Linked DNA regions of Homo sapiens: region 2 is linked to region 1. A link means that fine-mapping ties the variant in region 1 to the expression of a gene that starts in the linked region. Tissue or cell type: whole blood. Region 1 holds a variant in brackets; the other region holds the start of a gene. All regions are shown on one strand. Distances are between the middles of the regions.

What was found. PIP is the estimated chance that this variant, and not a neighbour inherited with it, causes the effect.
Region 2: it holds the start of PDCD2, and the variant in region 1 is fine-mapped to the expression of PDCD2 in whole blood (TOPMed, PIP above 0.99). The same link has a PIP of 0.9 or more in blood mononuclear cells.

The regions. Positions count from the first base shown.
Region 1 is chr6:170,514,269-170,517,028 of GRCh38, forward strand. No RefSeq gene overlaps it. Among named protein-coding and RNA genes, the nearest start is that of PSMB1, 38 kb to the right of the region's middle. The variant G/A (reference allele first, on the strand shown) is at 1,689.
Region 2 is chr6:170,583,453-170,585,952 of GRCh38, forward strand. It overlaps PDCD2 (programmed cell death 2), which reads right to left and starts at 1,185. Exons shown (of 6, transcript NM_002598.4): 1 at 847-1,185; 2 at 53-295. The coding sequence starts at 1,129. RefSeq lists a silencer at 915-1,154.

The sequences.
Region 1 (2,760 bases):
CTGACAATGTCACATGTTGATGGGAGAGTGAAACAACAAGGACTGCTAACACTGGCAGATATATTAATTATTATATGACAACGATTTTAGACCAACCATCATAAAAACACTTCAGGCTGGGCATGGTGGCTCACAGCTGTAATCCCAGTACTTTGGGAGGCCAAGGCGGGCAGATCACTTGAGGTCAGGAGTTCAAGACCAGCCTGGCCAACATGGTGAAACCCCATCTCTACTAAAAATACAAAAATTAGCCAGGCATAGTGGCACGTGCTACTCAGGAGGCTGAGACGAGAATCACTTGAACCCAGGAGGTGGAGATTGCAGTGAGCCGAGATCACGACACTGCACTCCAGCCTGGGTGACTGGGCAAGACTCTGTCTCAAAAAAATAAATACATAAAATAAAATAAAAATAAATAAAAAAACTTCAACAAGCAATACAAAAACACTTGAAATATATTAGAAAAATAGAAAGTTCCAGCAAATAATTAGAGGATATTAAGAATAACTGAATGGAAATTTTAGAACTGAGACATGCAATAACAACAAAGGTTTTTAAAACTCAGTAGATGGACTCAACAGCAGAATGGAGGGGACAGAGGAAAGAATTGGTGAACAGGGAATTAAAACAGGGAAATAAAATAAAATAAAAAAAGAAATTACCTAATCTGAACTGCAGAAAGAAATAAACAGAGCCTTGGAGACCTACAGGATCACAATCAAAGGTCTAACATTTATGTTATTGGAGTCCCAGAGAGAGGAGAAAGAGGGCATGACTTAAAAAGTAGTCAAACAAATAGTGGATGAATATTTTCTAAATCTGGCAAAAGACATAAATCTACAGATTCAAAATGTTGAGTGAACTCCAAATAGGATAAACCCAAAGAAATCCATGCCAAAGCATGCTATAACTAAACTTTTGAAAACTAAAGACAAAGAAAAAATATTGAAAGCAATGAGAGAAATAACATCTACCTATAAGGGAAAACAATTTGAATGATACGGAATTTCTCATCAGAAACCAGGGAGCCAGAAGGAAGTAACAACATTTTTCAAGTGCTCAAACAAAAGAATTGTCAACCCAGGATTATTTATTCAGAGAAAATATAAAGGTGAATGAAGGGGACTTGAAGATATTTTCAGATGAAAGAACAGTGTAAGAGAATTTGTTGCCAGCCGACCTCCTCTAAAATAATGGCTAAGGGAAGTTTTCTAAACAGATAAGAACTAATAAAAGAAAGAATCTTGGATCATGTTAACCTAAAGGAAAAAAACTGAGGCAAAATTAATATAAGTAGAGAGTTTATCTGGGCTGAAGCTGAGGACTGAAGCCCAGGAGACTCATGCAAGTTGCCTTGATCCATGCTCCAATTAACAGTAACTACAAGTGGTTTGTAAAAGCAAAAAAGAAGTGCAGTCCTTAAGTTGTTTACCAATAATTTACTTTGCTTTATTAAAATAACAAAAGTGATTGGTTGGCTATACATTTTTCTTTGTATCACAAATTCCATGAACATGAAGATTATGGATGAGAGTTACATTGTGCAACTTGTGGTAACATTTTAGGTAATTTATCAGCTAGCCTGGAAACTAGAAGAAAGGGAAAAAAAATCAAAATGCCTTTAAAAACTTGCCCCCAGGTATGGCTGCAGAGGACATGATTAGAGTCTCATGTTTATGTCTCTCTGC[G/A]TCTGATACATTTTCCATATCAGGCCAGGCATGGTGTTTCATGCCTATAATCCTAGCACTTTCGGAGGCTGAGGTGAGAGGGTCACTTGAGAATGGGAGTTCAAGACCGCCCTGGGCAACACAGTAAGATCAAGATCCTGTCTCCACGAAAGAAAGAAAAAAAGAAAAGAAGGAAAGATTGATTTAAAAATTACTTGACATGACGGTGCATGTCTGTAGTCCTGGTTACGCAGGAGGCTGGGGCAGGAGGACCACTTGAGCCCATGAGTTCAAGGCTGTAATAAGTTATGATCATGCCACTGTACTCCACTACAGTGTGGGTGACAGAGTAAGGCCCTGTCTCTCTCAAAAAAAAAATTCATATCTCACATTCCTCAGACGCTCTGAGACATGTTCTCAATCATTAGGAAAAAAGAAAGAACAAGGAAAATAGTAAAAATATAGATTAAAAAATACATTTTCCTTCTCCTCTTGAATATTCTAAATTATGTTTGATAGTTGAAGCAAAAATTATAACCCTAACTGATGTGGTTGTAAATACACATGGAGGAAATATTTCAGACAATTACATTAAACATATTATTAATATCAAATATTTATGATTATTAAATTATAAATGAGGAGGGTGAGGTGACATAAAGGAGGTCACCTTTTTTCCTACTTTTCACGGGAGCTGGTAAAATGCTAACACAGATAGACCGTGTTTTGTGTAATAAGTAGAAAAGCGATACCAAGAGATAAACTAAACAGTGCAATACATAAATCAAAGTGGAATTGTAAAACAAAAATATTCAAGAAATATATAGGAAGGTAGGGATAACAGAAAAACAAAACAGAGGGAAATAGCAGAAAATTTAAAAAAAGATGGCAACTTCAGACCTAATGTATCAACAATTTCATTAAATGTAAGTGCTCTAAATAAACCAGTTAAAAGGAAGAGATTGGCAGAGTGAATTAAAGCATGACCCAAATATACACTGTTTATAAGAAACTCACTTCAAATACAATGATACAGGGAGATTGAAAGTAAAAGGATGCTTGTGCTTGCCATTGGTGGACCTGTAGGCAGACC
Region 2 (2,500 bases), 69 kb after region 1:
GGTTGACAAAGGCGATGAAACTGAACTGAGACTTAAAAAAAAGATTACCCACCTGGTTGTGCACAAGCCTGCTTATGTCCCAATCTCCAGTCTAGGGTCTGATGCTCCTTGCTGCAGTAATATGCTTTGTGGCATCTGGAGCACGTTTTGGGGCCTAAACAGCCACAAACCCTGCAGAGATGAGCACCAGACTTAAGCTGGAGACACACTGATTCTCCTGTTTCTGGGGGAGGATTCTCAGAAGGTGGCTCATATGAGTAAAAATCGTTTTTCCTGGGTAGTTGATTCCTAAAAACTAAAAAAGAATACAGAGAAAAGTTTTATCTTCAAACAAAACAGCAATTCACATATTTTATCCTCTGCACGTAAAACTGAAAATAACAACAACAAAAAAGAAATGAAAGTTTTTGCTTTCAGGAATAAGCTTTTAAAATCCAGAAACTAGATTTCGTCCGGTACACGCAACTGAGTTGCCTCCTAGAGGTGGTTTGAGTTAATCAAATTAATAAGACTGATCGTTAAGAACGACTGCCAAAAATACGAAAAAGCTACTGGGATCCATCTTTCCAAGACAATTTCTATTATCTGAATTAACACCATACCTGGTACCCACTGATTAAAAGCTGGGGGTTACCAATGCGCGTGGGCACAGTTAGAAGCTTATGTAGCAAAAATGAGCACATCCTGGAAGGGCCCGGGAGAAGGTGCTCCTGGGGCAGCGCGGAGAGGGAGCTCTGAGGCTGGGGCGGCAGCGGTGCTTGCCGCCGTCCCCCTGGTCGCTCCCGGAATTAACGCCGCGCACGCGTCGGAGGCATGGCCCCGTCCCGACCCCGTTTGGCGGCTCACCTCGCAGGCCGGCACAGCACGGCTGCTCGCGGCAGCAGAAGAGGAAGATGCAGCGGTGGAAGGCGTCCGGGCGGCCAGGCAGCGGCGCATACACCTGCAGCAGGAAGGAGAGCGGGCGGCCGCACAGCTCGCAGGCCAGGGCCTGGGGCCCCGGCAGCCCGGCCGCGCCCAGCCATGCCGGCCGCCCGCCCACCTTGCTGGGGAACTGCTCGCTGCGCAGTCGCCACGCCGGCGCCGACTCGGCGAAGCCCAGCTCCACAGGCCTGGCCCCGGCGGCAGCCATGCGGGGCGCGGGCTGGCGTGGGGCGCAGCCCACAGCTGGGTCGGAAGGCGGAAATCGGGCGCCGGGCCGGAAGGCAAGAGGCGGGCACCTTTCCGGAGGACAGGAGGCGGAAACGCGTCTGACGGGAGCGGTTGCAGGACCAATGCGAGGGAACGGGGCAGAGGAAACCTCTCGGCATCAGCCCCGCCCCTGGCGCCTCTGCCTCCGAGCCGCTTTCCTGGTGCCTCCGGGTGCTCTGGGATGGTTCTGGTCTTTGGGAGAGTGGCAGCTGGTGACGGCGCTCCGCTCACCTCTGCACATGTCTTGCTGTGGGCCTGCGGGTGGCCGCCAGGGAGGCAGAGCCCTCCCGCAAACCTTCCCTGCTGGTGTCCACCTCAGGGTGTGGGAAACCTGTGCGCTGGCCGAGTGCTAACCAAGAGTAGGCAGTGAAAGACAAATGAAGGTTGAACAGGTAAAGTGAGGACCCTACAGCGGAAACCAAGAATCCTGTGTGCCTGAGAGTAATGAAGAAGCCTCTGCAGAAGAGTCTTTTCTGTCAGTCTTAAGGTCTCTGTTTTAATGTTAGTGCTGGCTTGCTGTACCTGAATTCCAAGGGAGGAGTGTATAATGAGGCATGGCCAACCCCCACTTCCCATCATTGCCTGAACTAGTTTTTCAGGTTAACTTCAGAATGCCCTTGGGCAAGCAGAGGGTCCATCAGTCGGTTGGAGGGTTTAGAATTTTACTGTTGGTTTGCAAAGGTCTGAAAGAAACATGTACCACCTGTTCTCTTTAAGGAGTTCTACTTAGGAGGTTTCATTTACATAACAAGACCGTGGTTGTCAGCCAGGTCTCCACCCGCATAACCTGTTATGCCACAATCCAAACCCCCATTCTGTAACCTCAAGATGGTATATAAGTTTCTGAACCCCATTTGGGGCTTCAGCAAAATCACTCTGGTTCTCCCCCATGTGCATGTTAATAAATTTGTATGCCCTTTCTCCAATTAATGTGCCTTTTGTCAGTTGACTTTTCAGTGAACCTTCAGAGGACAAAAAGGAAGCTTTCCCTTGGCTACTACAGTGGCTTTAATGGAAGTAAAGTCATCAACAACATTTATTTTTGACAAAATCACAGTTTAGTTGGCAGTATATTTGTTTGTTTTTGTTTTATTTGAGATGGAGTCTCGCTCTGTCGCCCAGGCTGGAGAGCAATGGTGCGATCTCGGCTCACTGCAACCTCCGCCTCCCGAGTTCAAGCATTCTCCTGCCTCAGCCTCCCGAGCAGCTGGGTAGCAGTATATTTGTAATGGTACATAAAATAATGTCTGTTTTTAAATAAACATTTACATTGTAAACCAAAAGTTAACTCTCCATCAATTTTTTTTTTTCT